Linked DNA regions of Homo sapiens: region 2 is linked to region 1. A link means that fine-mapping ties the variant in region 1 to the expression of a gene that starts in the linked region. Tissue or cell type: lymphoblastoid cells. Region 1 holds a variant in brackets; the other region holds the start of a gene. All regions are shown on one strand. Distances are from middle to middle.

Region 1 (8,106 bases):
ATTTTTTTTAATGGTCACTGGGATATCCAGGAGGAAATCTGGGAATGATAAATTCACAGGACTATTTGTGGATATTTTCCCCTGCATTTGTTTTGACCTACCCACACTGGATGGGACTTTGATCACAAAGCCCCTCCCGTAGCCCCTGTGTCTTCCCTTGCCTTTGCCACACAGTCTTACAGTTGCCTTCTGTTCCCATGACTCTCCTTCTTTGTCCTTTGAAGGCTCCTTTCCCTCTATCCCATCCCATAACTTTTCTGACGCACGCTCTATCCATAGTTGGCATTGCTCATTCCTAGGGCTTCCGCCGCTCTTTCCACGATGATTCTCAGATCTCCATCAGTCCCAGATCGTTCCAGGGCTCTAGGCACAGATATGCAGTTGCCTACTGGACATCTCTACTTAGTTGTCTCGTGGGTTTCCCCACTTAGACATGGCAAGAACAACTCCTCCTCCTCCTCCTCCTCATCCTCATCAAAACTGCCTCTTACGTTGTATTCTCTATCGTAGCCATCGGCACCACCAACCACACACATGCCCTAAGACCATGAGAATCATCGCTGATTCCTCATTGTCCTTCCCTTCTGTGTACGATCCACCATCCACTTTTTAATTCTACCTCTTATGCATGTCTCAAATATATCTACTTCCCTTCATGTCCGTTGCTATCACCCCAGACTCTGCTACCATAATCTCTCGCCTGAACCACTGCATAATATGGTGTACAAGGTCTTTGATGCCATGAGCCTACACTACCTTTCAAGACTTACCTTTCATCATTTTCTTTTTTTTTTTTTTTTTTTTTGAGACGGAATCTCGCTCTTTCACCCAGGACGGACTGCAGTGGCGCTATCTCAGCTCACTGCAACCTCCGCCTCCCGGGTTCATGCCATTCTCCTGCCTCAGCCTCCCGAGTAGCTGGGACTACAGGCGCCCACCACCGTGCCCTGCTAATTTTTTGTATTTTTAGTAGAGGCGGGGTTTCACCGTGTTAGCCAGGATGGTCTTGATCTCCTGACCTCGTGATCTGCCCGCCTCGGCTTCCCAAAGTGCTGGAATTACAGGCGTGAGCCACTGCGCCCGGCCTCATCATTTTCTTGATTGTACTCTATGCTGCAAGCATTTTGAATTCCCTTCAGTCCTTTCTATGAGCCATTTTCACATTTGCCTTAGGCTGTTGCATAAATAACTCTCCCTGCCTAGAATAACCTCTTTGCCCCTCACACTCTCTCCACCTTTCTCTTTCTTCTTCTACCATCTTTCATTATTTAGTCTTAAATAGTAAGAGTAAATTATTTATTTAGTAAATTAAGTTAGTTTACACATCTCTTCCTCAAAGAGAACTTCGCTGCCTTAGGCCAGGTTAGGACTTTTATGTTCTCATAATCACTAAACTTCTCCCTTTATAACACTCTTATATTGGTCACTCTTGTTTTATTGGTCGTTATTGGTCACTTTTGTTTAAATGTCCCCATTGCCAGTGAGATTATTTCATCAAACACATCACATGTCTTATTAGTCACATTTTTTTTTCCTGGAGATGATTTCTAGGAATCCTCTGTTCTCCCGGGCAAACCAGAACTGCTCATTTGCTAAACCTTCTATAGAGCTATCAAGCTGAGTTGCTTCAATACCTTCTTTCTTTTGTGGGGTTTCTGTTTGCTGGATTCTGTATGTTTTCTTCCTTGCTTTATATCCTTGGTTGGTGAAATTCATCCTCCAGGAGCTTCATGAGAATGGATGCATGCATAAAAAGTTCATTTTTTTGAAACCTTGCATACTTAAAAGTGTCTTTAGTCTGTCTTTGACTTTCGTCTATACTTTGGCTGGGTATAGGAGTCTATGCTGAAAATTATTTGCCTTCTGAATGTAAATACATTTCTGCAGAGTCTTCTAGTGTCAAGGGCTGATCTGGAGAATTGTAACCTATTTTTGATTCCCAATTATTTGTAGAGGATCTATGTTTGTTTCTCTGGATCTGGAAGCTTTTAGAATCCTTTCCATTATTCCTAAAGTTCTGAAATCTCATGACGATATGTTTTGCTGGAGGCTTTTTTTTCACCATTATGCTGAGTGGGTCCTTCCAATCAGAAAATGCATGTCCTTCACCTCTGGGACATTTTCTTTTATTTCTTTTGCACTTTCTTCCCCACCATTGTCTCTGTCTTCTCTTTCTGATTAAGTGTTGGAGTTTCAGGCCGGGTGTGGTGGTTCGTGCTTGTAATCCTTGTACTTTGGGAGGCCTAAGTGGGTGGATCATCTGAGCCCAGGAGTTTAAGACCAGCATGGGCAATATGGTGAAACCCTGTCTTTACTAAAAATACAAAAAATATTAGCTGGGCCTGGTGGTGCATGCCTGTAGTCCTAGCTACTTGGGAGGCTGAGGTGGGATGATAGCTTGAGCCTGGGAGACAGAGGTTGAAGTGAGCCGAAATCACACCACTGCACCCCATCCTGGGCTATGCAGCAAGACTCTTGTCTCAAAAAAAAAAAGAGTTCCTAGATCAATTAATTTTTTAATGTTTTCTTTCCTATTGTCCATTTCTATGTCTGTTCTACTTTTTTTCCGAGAGATAGTATTGATTTTAATCTTTCTGTCATTTTATTGAATTCATTTCAGATCTAGATTTTTCCTGGCTCATTTTTCTCTTCAGAATAAACTTCTTGCCCCTGTTGGTATTGGGAAGTGCTAGTCACCTAGGCAACATGCGTACAGAGCCATTGGCGTCTACTGTTCCTTAAGCAGAGCTTTGACCAGTCACCACCCCCTGCCTTGGGGATACCTGGTGCCTCCAACTCCTGAGCCTTTCTGAGATTTACAGCATGAGTTGGCTTGTTTCTCTCTACCATCTTCCACTGTGAACAGTTGATACCAGTCACACAGCTTTGCTGACTCCCTCGTACACTGTCCGTCTTCCAAGATATTCATCAACATTCCTCACACACTACTATATTCATGACTATTTTCATTAATTTGTGGTTTTATACTTTTTAAAATTCATTCATTGGTATTTTAGTGGCATTTCAGAAGTGGATAAATATATGTTTATATTCAATTTTCTATGTATAATCAAAACCACTAATTTTTTACTAAAGATTTGAACACGTCGTCTGATTACTGTTCATGGAGGAGAAGTCTCACTTTGAATTCTGGTTCTAGACTTCCCTCACTTTCCTTTCTTCTTTTCTTCTCTCTCTCTTTGATTTTTCCTGCATCTTCTCCTTCTGTTCTGACTCACAGACAGGATCACAACCAGCTCACATATTTAGCTTCAGAATCTGTAGGCTCCATCTAGTTTTTTTTCAATTTTTTATTATCACAGAATTATTGCTTACTTTTTTCTTAGAAATTTTTTACTATGAAATTTTTCTTATGAAATTCTAAAGAATTTCAGCTCACTCTTTAAATCCTTCTGTGATAAAGATGATAATAGGAACAATGATATATTTGTCTATCTTTATTTATCTTGATAAATGTCTATCAGAGCATGTATCTTGGTACATGCTCTTAACATGTATCAAGCCCTAAATGAAGCATGCTGTATAGATTATGTCTTTTAACTCACCCTGTGGGCAAGTTAATATTTATTTCTCCATTTTAAAGATAAGAAAACTAAAGCTTATAGAGTTGTAATAACTTGCCCATGGACATATAGTTGGTGATTTGTGAAATCTGGTTTTATACAATTTCTGGCACCAAAGATGAGACTTTTATCCACTATACTACATCCTCTTGATAGGAAATAGGAATATTAGACCAGAAACTGATCAAAACATTATTTTGAACTATTAGATTTTCATTAGCTGTTAGAGGCACTTTCAAACAAGGATGGGATGCCTAATCATACCAGAAGTGCTCCTCTGGAAATATCTACACAGGGGTTGGGTGGTCTTGGGTGAAGAATGTTGGGGGACATGGGGAGGTTCCTACATCCAGATGAAGCATGGACTTCAAAATCCCGTTTAAACACTTCAAGTCTTTGATTCTTACCATTTTACTGTCTCCCAACTATTAGGTTGCTGCTTAAAGTAATTGCAGTTTTTGCCATTAAAAAGTAATTGCAAAAACTGCAATTCCATTCCCTGTACATTGTGCATCAATGGGAAGTATGAAATAACTCCACCCTAAGGTGTATTTTAGCATTCGGTATTAAAAATAATAACAGGTATCATCTATTCAATGCTTACTGTGTCCAGATATTGTGCTAAGGACTGTATAAACATTGTTTCACTTAATTCTTATTTCAACCCTGAGAAATTGGGCCATTATTATCATTCTACACCAAAAAAGTCCTGAATGTAGTTGTCTTAGTCTGCTCAGGCTGCTGTAACAAAATGCCATAGGCTTAACTGACAGAAATTTATTTTCTCATAGTTCTAGAGGCTGAAAGTTTCAAGATCAAAGT[C/T]GAAAAGGGTTGAATTTCTGATGAGGGCTCTTCTTACAGGTAGCTGCCTTTTCTCTGTGTCCTCAGATGGTCTTGAGATATCCCTTTCTCTCTTCCTCTACTCATAAAGCCACCAATCCTATTGAATTAGGACCCCACCTTTTTGACCTTATTTAATCTAAATTACCTCCTAAAAGTCATATCTCCCAATACAGTCACATTGGGGATTAGAGCTTCAACAAATGAATTTCAGCAGACATCATTCAGTCCATAGTAGTGGTGGGCAATGTTTAGCTTGGTTTTAATGGAAAGATGATGCTATTAATGTTATTGAGACCTGAAAAATGTTTCACCTAGGAGGAGAACAGACCTGTGTTCCCCCATGAAGAGGGTGGATAGATCACCTGTTGGACAATAGGACTGGTGCCGTCTCAGCATTGGCAGGAAGGGCCAACTCTCTTGTTGCTTGTCAGACAGCAGGAAGAATTCAAAAGTATTTTGGGGTTTGAAGAAACCTCATCCTTTGTGGAGGGAGTCTGCACGATCTTTATAAAGGACTTCCTCAGGTTGCCTTTAGGAGAAAAGTAGTCTCTTTAGTGTCTCTCTATCTCTACTTGTTTTTGGATCAGAGATGGCTTTAGTGTCAAAACTTTTGTGTTCTTTTTCTTTTTTCTGTCTGCAAAACCAACCCTGTTCTCCAGAGGCTTTTTGTAACTTAATCCATTTCTTTTCCAGGAAGCTAAAGAAACTATTTCGAAAGCTGAAAGATGAGACCGAAGCTGGAGAAACTGACTCTGCCCATTCGAAACATCCAGAGCAGTGGGACCTAGACTACAGCTTGGAACCATACACAGGACTGACTCCGGAGTACATGGAAATGAGTGAGAACCCATGGTCCTGCCTTCCACTGGGGGCAGGTTCAGACAAGGGGTCTGTGGGGTTGAAGGGGGAAGGTAGGGGATTGGGGAAAATGACTGGGACAGCCTCTGCTTCTTCATGAGCTTCATGGCTATTCAGTGTTCCCTTCAGTGCCACATGAAAGTTGAGAAGAATGGGGCAGAAAGAGACCTGGGAGGAGAACCTGGAGCAGCTCAGTCAACAGTTTGGTGGATAATTCTAGGATGATGTTCTCTTTTCCTTGTGATTCCTCTCCTCATCTATAAACTAAAGTTTGATCTCTCAGGCCCCTTTCCATGGTTTCTATTATTGATAAAGCTGAAAGGGAAATAGTACAATCTGAAATTTAAGAATATAGTTTCCATGAAAGTCTTCCTTCATGGAAAGTATCCGATGACACTTGGGTCAAGGATATCTACATTTTGACTTGGAGAATATATAAGAGCATCCCCTACTTTGATCAGATAAGGCTGGATAAGATGAAAGCTTTTTAACAAAAGTTGGGTCTATTTCGGTAGGGAGTGAGAGGTGTATTTCTAGTTGCAGAGCCTCTAGTTGTTTTCGATAAGGCTTGAAGGCAGGAGCACATGTAGTACAGGCTGATGGAACACAATCATTTTAGATGTGGCTTGGAAGCCATGAGTTCTTTATTATGAGAAGGGTCCCAACTTAGGCCAGCTGCCTTTGCACTGTTGGCTACTTGACTATAATCCTGATCTTCTATTGGGATGGATGTTTGAGAAGTCTCTTTCCAAGACTTGGGGCTAATGAATTAAAAGCATAGGATACCAAAGATCAAGAGCTTAGGTATAAGACGAGCGCAGTGGCTCATGCCTGTCATCCCAGCACTTTGGGAAGCAGAGGCAGGTGGATCACCTGAGGTCAGGAGTTTGAGATCAGTCTGGCCAACATGGTGAAACTCCATCTCTACTAAAAATACAAAAATTAGCCAGGAATGGTGGCAGGCACCTGTAATCCCAGCTACTTGGGAGGCTGAGGCACGAGAATTGCTTGAGCCTGGGAGACACAGCTTGCACTGAGCTGAGATTGTGTCACTACTCCAGCCTGGCCAACAGAATGAGAGTCTGTCTCAAAAATAAATAAATAAAGATCTTAGCTATAATGTCTAAACATTCTAAACATTTACTCAATGGGGAACCATCAATAAGATCCATCAAAAAAATCACTCAATGTTTAATTCAGTGCTTAGTATCATTGCACCTATCACTGTGTTTGCATATGACTCCTGCTCCCTTCACCTAGTCACTTGTAGCAGAGGGCCGTCAGTACCTTTTTGTGCACAGGCTACCTCACTCATCATTTCTAATGGGCATTCCTCCTATTCTGTTATAGGAAATTGCATGTGTTTGTTAGCAGTGGAGTAATGGGCAGGGTCTAGATCAGACGGCCATGGAAATATTGTCCTAGCCCTGGGATGTCTACAATTCTAGGGAAAGCCTCAACTTTGTAATCTGAAACAACTCACCAGAGAACAAACAATCATTAAGTCTGCTTCAGAAACAATATGTAAAGAAAATATCAAGACCTGGTTTAAGGAAACGTGTAGCCCCTTTATGCCTTTCATGTTTGGCTAAGAGCTACCTCTAATCCCTCTCTGATGCTGTATTTACACAAAGGATATTGCTCATATTTCAGACGCCATTCTACATCTGCCATTCTCTCACCCAGAATGAAAGAAAGTGCTGCCAGAGATTGGGACTTCCATTTGGGGAAGGGCCTACATTAGGAACCCCTGAGATCTGTTTGTCTGCCTCCACCCTCTGACGCCAGTGGTCCCACTTCCGTCGCCACCAATTAGCTGTGTGGGTTTCACATGCTTGTCAACCTTGTCTGTTCAGCTATTTCAAAGCTTCCTCTTTTGGGTGATTAGAGCAGAGACCCCAAAGTTTTCTAGTTTATGTATATAGACGTGTTCATAATAGCAAAGAATACATTCCACCTAAATGCTCATCAATGATAGGCTGGGTAAAGAAAACGTAGTACACTGTGGACTACCATGCAGCCGTGAAAAAGAATGAGTTCGTGTTCTTTGAAGGAACATGGATGGAGATGGAGGCCATTATCTTTAGCATACTAATGCAGGAACAGAAAACCAAATACTGGATGTTTTCACTTATAAGTGGGAGCTAAACCATGAGAACACATGGACACACAGAGAGGAACAACACACACTGGGGCCCATCAGAGGGTGGGGATGAGAAGAGGGAGAGGATCAGGAAAAAGAACTAATGGGTACTAGGCTTAATACCTGGGTGATGAAATAATCTGTACAACAAACCCCCATGACACAAGTTTACCTGTGTGACAAACCTGCACTTGCACCCCTAAACTTAAAAGTTAAAAAAAGAGAAATAAAACATTAAAATACAACAAAGAGGAGCAGAGACCCTTGAACCATACTTCCTGGGCTCAAATCCCAGCTTTTGACCAACTAGCTGGGTAACCCTGTGTAAGTTACCCACTTGCCCTTATCAAGACTCCTATGTGTCTTGATTTGCTTGCCTATTAAAAAAAGATAATAATATAATAGGATTGTCAGGAGTAGTGAATGAATTAGTATCTGTGAATAGAAGAGGGTCTTAGTGCTTAGTGCTAATACAGTGCTTAGAAGAGGGCCTAACACATACAAAAGCTGTGTATTAAGTGTCCAGTGTTATTCCTCTTAATGGTCTTGAAGCCTGAGGAAGGCAGAGTTAGGGAAATATACTCTACTTTGTCAGGGCCATGCCACTGAATACACATCTACCATGTTATTATGTGTTTCAACTTGGGTGCTTACCAAGAAATGAGAAGAATGAAAAAA
Region 2 (8,106 bases), 950 kb after region 1:
ACTGAAGAACATCACAAATAATGATAAAAGGAGTGAAGTGCTTGAGAAAAGATATTCTGACTTTTAGAAAGTTTAACAGCAAGAGACTTGTCAAACATTCCACCATTTCTTTTTCATTGACTGAGGTTCTTGGTACTAGAATGAACCCTCAAAGTTCATGTACCAATGCTTACATCTTCTCTACAGCATGTGTGCAAAGAAATCATCTGGCTTTTGCCTGAACACCTGTGGAGTTGGGAAACTCACTACTTCCTGTAGCTGCCCATTCTGCTTTGAGCCATTCTAACAGAAAGAAAGTTCTACCACAAGGGGAATCAGTGACTGCTTCCCAGAAGTTTTTATCCCTGTGTTCCTCCAGAATGACAAAGAACAAGTCTAATCCCTCTTCTACAATTAAGTGTAGCAATTATAGCCCCACTAAATATTTTCTTCTCCAGGTTAAACATTCCCTGTCCTGTCAAATATTCTTCATATGGCAGGAATGAGAATCTCTTTTGGATACATTCCAGTTTTCAAGTTATTGCTAACTCCTTAGAATAGAATTTTAGAGTTAGCTGCTCAACTTTCATGTAAGTAGAAACAAAAAGGTTTAAAGTGCTAACGCACTTCTGCTCCAATCAACAAACTTCGGAGCTTAGCATTCGTGCTTTGTACACTTGGGAGAGGTGAAAGACACAAACAGGACTTTCTTTAGAAAATCTGTGTTTGTTTCTAGGGATGACTTTCAGGTGGCATTCTGCCCAAAGGTCATTGTTCTTCCCTATCCAAAAGTATTGAATTGGAGAAATAGCCTAGCTCACTGATAGTGACAGAAATTAAAAGTAAACATCATGGACCACACATCATAATAACAAAATAATAACATCATATTAACAGCTACCTTTACAGAGCTCTTGGCAGGTGTCCAGCATTATTCTAAGTGCTGCATAGGTATTATCTTTTTTAATGCTATCTTTATCACCACTTTATGGATAAGGTTAGTGACTAGCCCAAAGCACTAGTAAAGGAGATTAAAAAGCAGTCCCATGAGGTAGGAGAAAAACTCAGAAGGAAACAGAATCTAAAAACCCAAAATAAGAAACTGTTTCAAGGAGAGAATGGTTAACTTTACCAAATGCTGAAAGTGAAGTAGGAAGAGGACAGAGGACCACAGAAGCTGGAGGATGTGGCTGTAGGTGGCATAAATAAGAGCAATTTTATTGGATTAGTGGGACTGAAAGCCAGACTGGAGCAAACAAGAGAGGCTGTGAGGCAAGGAAGTAGATGAGGAGTATACACAATCCTTCTGAAAAAGGAGAAATGGAACTAGAGAAAACAAGGACAGGAATAGGTTTGTTTGTTTGTTTTAAATATGAGTTAACATTTATGTGCTGATGGAAATGACATGATTTCCATGGTAGAGGTAGAAAATTACTGATTCAGGAAAGGGAATGAATAGTTGAGAGAGGATAAGATTGAATGCAAAGTGAAGGAACTGGCCACAGATTGGAACAGAAGGAGCTCACCCACTGTAACAAGAGAAAAGGCAAAGAATTATCACATATCAACTATTAGAGTTTATGGTGGGAAAATGACTGTTCTCATCTGATTCCTTTGATTTCTCTGTAAAGCTGAGAATGAGACAAAAGCACATGTTAGAGGTTTTAGGAAACTCGCTATGTTAAGTAATGATTATGGAGACAAGGAAACCAAATTTCCTAGAAAAATGTAGCACTGAAAATCTACTTGAGATTTGTATTCATGAATTTAAAATAAGGCCAGTTAGTCTGAAGTTTTCCCTAGCCCCGTTCTCCATTGCTCAGTGGCAGGCAGCAAATTACGTGGAAAGTTTTGTTTAATCAGGGTCAATGTTTTTTACGACAATGGGAGTTGGGCTGGGGAGTTGAGGATGCATAAAAGGGAATGATAAGAGTGAAGAGTAAGGAAATGAGGACATAGGATAAGACAGGCAAAAGATGGCAGAGTCAATGAACTGGGAAGAATTACTTGAGTTGAGGAATTAATACCTCAAAGGACTGTTAAGAGGATTAAACATACATAAACCACGTAGCACATTACCTAGAGCACATTAAGCATTCTATGAATAATAGTTGCTTTTATTACTTTGAAATTTCTCAGAAGGTAATGTCACACTAACCTCACATGGCTATTGTTTTTTTTTAATAATTATGGGCCAAGAATTATTCTAGAAACTGTGACTATCACAGTAAAATACAAAACCCTGGCTTCATGAAGCTCACAGTTTAAAGGGTTAATGAGAATAACATATGGGCAAGCATCTGTCACAGTGCCTTGCAAATACTAGGTGCTCAATAAATATAAATTATTACTCTCTTTGGTTCCAGCCTCTCCACTTTCTTCCATTTATTATGAGTACTATTAGAAGAATGATATTCTTTATTAATTATATATTCATTATATTTCTCTGCTTAAAAACCTACATTAGTTTCCTACTGCAATACCCAAACCAATAGTCCAGACATATTTGCTTGCACACTGCATTAATTTTTTTAAGTATTTATTTAAAAAATTATATGCACGTTCTATGTAGTACCAATATGATATACACATTATAAATCATACATTACTTAGAATAGTGTGTGGCATACAGTTTAAACTACATAAGTGTTAGCTATTATTACTATAGAAAGCAATTTTTAGGAGTTCTAATTTATATTTCCACAACTTATTAGGTCCTCTTGCACAACTCCCTTTGGAGACTACCGATCTAAACTCTGCTTGGCTTTCAAAGGTCTCCATTGTCTGATCCCATCTAACACATTCAACCTCCTTTTCCACTATCCCAGATATTCAGGTAGTCATTTCACTGCCTCTTGAATACCTCATGACTCCATTCTCACCCACTTGTCTTTGCCAGAGGACTTTCCAGATCATAACAGCCCTAAAGAGACCAGTGGGAGCACTACAATTCTCCACTGGTCTTCCAATCATCCCTCAGTACCTCAAATGATACTAATCTTTCCCTTTTATGATTTCCTGTGATACTTAATAGTCTTGCCACACTTAACTATATATAGTTGTCTTACACAGTTCTGTCCTATAGTGTGTGGATTATGTTACATACTAGACTTGCCTCTACAGAATTTACTCAAAAACTTACTTTACCAGACAATAACGCAGAGTGGTTAAGAACACAAGCTATGGTGTCAGTCAGAGGAAAGTAAGTTAAAAGAGGAAAATTAATAAAAATACCTAGAACTGGAGATTGCAGATAGCAGGTACTCAATAAATAGTGATTACCATTCACAATCTACATTACGTCATACAATTGTAATAGTTTAACAAGAACCAGCAAATGTCTTTGCAAAGACATTGTGACTACAAAACCATCCACTATAAGTGATGTGCACCACCACCTTCCCAGTGGTATGCAGGAGTTCTACCCAAGATGGAAAACAAAAAAAAAAGGATCCTCTAAACACTCCTAATTCTTGCCTCAGGCTGAACATCAAGCCTATCTGTGGTGCTTTTAAAAATTTAAGGTGCAAGGAGCTAATCTCACAAATTCTGACTCAATAGCTCTACACTCAGTCCTCATTTCTAATTTTTATAAAGCTTTACGAGTGATTCTGACATGAGCCAATTTTGAAAGCAAATGATATTCTGTAACGACTAAAATACACTAAGAAAAATACAACTTTGGGGGTTTGATTGGAATATGTTTGTGGAAGAGTAGAGGGTGAAAGGACAATGATGAAGTGTAACCGTATTTCTAATTTCCTTGCTTTTTAGTGAGTGGAAGGACAAATGTATGTTTTCAGTTTGAGGAGTGGGAGCAGATCCAATCAGAACAGAAGAGAAACTAAATAATGCTAACAAATTCTAACATAGCCTTCATTCTTCACTTTCCTTTCCACCAAGCTCCTGATTCTTCTCTCCTCAAACATCACTCTCTCCCCCAGACCCCAACGCACTTTGCCGAACACATTCTACATCCGTAGAGACGCTTTTGGGTAAAAGGATGCTTTTACAAATATTAGCTCATTTAATCTTATCAGAGACTCCCTGGTATTGTAATATTATCATTTCCATTGTGCTCATATGAATTGAGACCCATTAAGGGTTTGCACAAGGTCATAAAATCAATCTAAGAAAACCTCTCGCCACTAGCCTTTTTTCCCTCCCTTACACATTTCTCCCCCCGCCCCATACAAATATTTCTCATAACCCTAAACCCTTACAACCATATCAGAATTCTGATTCTCTCGATCCCTAACGTGTCCCCCGCATTCTCCTCTTCGCTTACAGCTGCTTAAGATCTTTTGTCCCCTCCCAAGGTGGTGCACAATTGAATATGTGAGCCGGGGAAGCGGAAAGCGAAAGGAGAAACCAGACTGAGGCAGCTCCAAACCTAGAGAAACCAGAGTGTGCCTAGGAAGTTGGCGTGACCGCTGCAGCACGGTGCCACTTCCAAAACCTTAAATCCCCGTCTCGGAATCCCGACCAGGGGCCGCCGTTCCCGGTAACACTTACGTGACATTGACAGGACCCGGACAACCCGGGATTGTGCGGCAGCCGCCATCTTTTCCCACAATCCCCCACGACAGCACTCCCGGCTGACTACGGCTGCTAAGCTGGGTCAAAACTTACCTTTCTCGCCTGTCTGCGCAAGCGCTAACCAAGAAACGACGGTTTCGGGTAGATTGTTGGTTAAGAAGAAAGCTGGGAAAGTGAAGGAGAGGGGGAAGAAAGGAAGTGAAAAGACTTTGGCTGTTGGAATCTCAGATCTGGAATAGGCTGTATAGGCTATTTATAATCTCTAATTGCCGAGGAACCTGAAGTTCAGAGTTAACCAGTGACTGACTCAGGACATGCAAAATGGCAAGACCCGAGGTAGAAGAGCTCACCTTTCCTGACTCTCAGTTTCCTGTTCCCTGAAAATGTAAGCTAAGCTGGCAGCCCTGGTGAGTCCGGAGGAAGAAGGAGGCGTAGCCCTCCGCGCTCAGGAGATCCAGGGCCCAGGAGAGAGAAAAGGGGGGACAAGAACGAGGGGAAAAGTGGAGAAGAGAAACCAAAATAGGGTGTGTCCCAAGTAAATAAATGTGCGTCGAGCCCGCCAAGCACATTCTCTCATAGGGACCCTTGCGCCTGCTGTTCGCGTTTCCTGGAATGCACACTCAGGTGTCTGCACCAGCTCAAGTCTCTGCTCAAAAGTGACCTCTTCGGATAAAACTTCTCTGACCATCCTATCCAAGGTGGTAATTATTCCACCAATTTTTGGTTTAAGTTTATATACCAAAGCACTTATCACCAACTAGCATATGAATCTAGGAGTTCTTAACCAGAAGTGTGATTCATGAGTGGGCTTCGGGAAATCTGTGAACTTCCTGAAATATTATGCAAATTTAGTGGCCATGTGTGCCATCTGAACATCTGTCTAAGGAGAAACTGCAGATGGCTCTCTCTAGCGCAATGGCTTGTAATTTTTTCTTTAACTGTGGTCACCTTTGAGAATCTGCATTGTTCTACAAAGAGCCATCTAGAAACTGAGGAAATTCCAGGTTAGACTAAGCGCTTGGATTTTAAAATACTTTATTCTGGTCAACCTCTCCAGATTGCTGGGTAGGAGATGGCAACCAGTGATCCTGTGAAACATACCTTAGGCTTATCAGAAAACCACCTAGTTTGGGGAGGGCGGGTTCTTTCTAGACTTGGTAATCCTTCCAGTGCTTTGTTTTTTCAGGAAAAGTATGTGTTTCTGGGATAGACAAAAAGGCCTGTGATGAGTAGGGATGTAGAAGTTGCTTATTACTAGGCTTGAAATCTTGGCTGTTTCCACTCTATCTTGCCCCTACTGTTTACTGAAGTGTCGCCTAACAAATTGAATTGGAAGAGAGAAAAAAACCTTGAATTTCATCGGAGAAGCTTAGTAGTAACGCTACACTGTCATATTTCTTGGCCTTATCCTATGTTCACTTAACACAATTTGCTAATACTTGATTTTGGGACCAATATGGATACTAACATACTTTCCTTGTTCGGATCAACAGATCCTGACTGTCATCAGCAACCTGCTTACTCCTGTATAACACTGCCAATTATATAATTTAAAATCTCTAAGTTAAACACTGCCTCATGTTCTCAGTTCTAGTTTCAAGGTTGCATGGTGTAATTAAAAGAACACTGACTTTTTTTTTTTTCAGAGATGGGGTCTTACTGTATTGCCCAGGCTTGTCTCAAATTCCTGGGCTCAAGACCTCCTCTCACCTTGGCCTCCAAAAGTGCTGGGATTACAGGCATGAGTCACTGTGCCCAACTGAAAGAACACCGATTTTTAACACCTAGAATACTAGATCCCATCCCCAGTTTTGTCATTCGTTAGCTGTGACCTGGACAAGTTTCTACACTTGTCTAACAGGGTAAATAAAACCTACCCTGGTACCTCAAAAGGTTATTATGAGAATCGGGTGGCGTAATGGATGCAAAGATGCTTTGTCACCCGTAAAGTGCTATATGTAGGTCCATGCAGTACTATTCAAATACCACTGAAGTATCAAAATCATAGAATGTTAGAGCTGGAAGAGATTTTAGGAGCTCAGCAAGCCCCATTATTTCAAAGACGAAGAGGCCAGGTGCGGTGGCTCATGCCTGTAATCCCAGCACTTTGGGAGGTCGAGGCAGGCGGATCACTTGAGGTCAGGAGTTCGAGACCAGCTTGGCCAACATAGTGAAACCCAGCCTCTACTAAAAATACAAAAATTAGCCGTGTGTGGTGGTGTGCACCTGTAATCCCAGTTACTCGGGAGACTGAGGCACAAGAATCACTTGAACCTGGGAAGCGGAGGTTGCAGTGAGCCGAGATCGTGCCACTGTACTCCAGCCTGGGCGAGAGTTGAGACTCTGTCTCAAAAAAAAGAAAAAAGAAACTGAGATATTTTGACAAATATAATTTGACTAGTAGGTGCACTTTCTGTGAAAAGAATACAAAAGCTCTTGAGACAATATAAAAGATCATCAATGGATAAATAACTTTTTTTTTTTTCAAGTCTCACTCTGTCACCCAGGCTGGAGTGCAATGGTGCTATCTCTGCTCACTGCAACTTCCGCCTCCCAGGTTCAAGCAATTCTCCTGCCTCAGTCTCCCGAGTAGCTGGCATTACAAGCGTGTACCACCATGCCTGGCTAATTTTTTGTATTTTTAGTAGAGACAGGGTTCTGCCATGTTGGCCAGGCTGGTCCTGAACTCCTGACCTCTAGTGATCCGCCTGCCTCAGCCTCCCAAAGTGCTGGCATTACAGACGTGAGCCACTGTGCCCAGCGATAAATAACTTTTTTGAAGGAACCCTGTGATAAACCAGCCGCTTTTGAATCTGTTGCAATTTTCATCATTATCTCGTGGCCATGCTTGGAATTTCTTTTTGCTCCATGGAAACTATATACTAGTCCTATATTTAATCATTAATTACAGAGTAGCTGAGGTAACATTTTCAGAGAATGTAGTAATAAAGCATAGAAAGAGTAGCTAACCAAATGCCTCTTGGTGTGATTTTTCCCACTACAGTTTCTCAGGTCAGGCATTGCAAATGATAAAATAGGGTTATTGTATCTCTGAAGATCTAAGACAAATTATAACCCAGAGATGGTCAGTTTAGGCAAAATATCCTAAAAATAATTTTTTTACAGAAGGCAAGATGCTTATAAATAAAAAGAGTCCTGGCTGGATCTGACAAAATGAAGTGATTCCATGGGATATGCATAAAATTTAGACCCTCAATTCTTTTATTTCTCATTCTCCTCTGCCGTCCTCTAGATTTGTTAATACATAATACTTACTCTGCTGCTTTAAGTGGAATCCATTGGCAAAATGTCCCCTTCCCGTATTCCCCCACCTATATTAAACACTCTAAAGCAGAGGTCCCCAACCCTCAGGCCATGGACCGGTACCAGTCCATGGTCTTTTAGAACCTGGCCACACAGCAGGTAAATGGTGAGCAAGTGAGCAAAGCTGAGCTCCACCTCCTGTCAGATCAGTGGTGGCATTAGATTCTCATAGGAGCTTGAACCCTATTGTGGAAAGTGTACGTTGTGCACTCCTTATGAGAATCTAGTGCCTGATGATCTGTCGCTGTCTCCCACCATCCCCAG

What was found. PIP is the estimated chance that this variant, and not a neighbour inherited with it, causes the effect.
Region 2: AKAP3 starts here. The variant in region 1 is fine-mapped to the expression of AKAP3 in lymphoblastoid cells (GTEx, PIP above 0.99).

Annotation. Positions count from the first base shown.
Region 1 is chr12:5,596,644-5,604,749 of GRCh38, reverse strand. It overlaps ANO2 (anoctamin 2), which reads left to right. Exons shown (of 25, transcript NM_001364791.2): 20 at 5,121-5,266. Among named protein-coding and RNA genes, the nearest start is that of NTF3, 170 kb to the right of the region's middle. The variant C/T (reference allele first, on the strand shown) is at 4,407.
Region 2 is chr12:4,645,564-4,653,669 of GRCh38, reverse strand. AKAP3 (A-kinase anchoring protein 3) reads left to right here and starts at 4,619. Exons shown (of 6, transcript NM_001278309.2): 1 at 4,619-4,925. NDUFA9 (NADH:ubiquinone oxidoreductase subunit A9) reads right to left here and starts at 4,556. Exons shown (of 11, transcript NM_005002.5): 1 at 4,495-4,556. The coding sequence starts at 4,543. RefSeq lists enhancers at 4,131-4,786, 4,655-4,864, 5,145-5,194.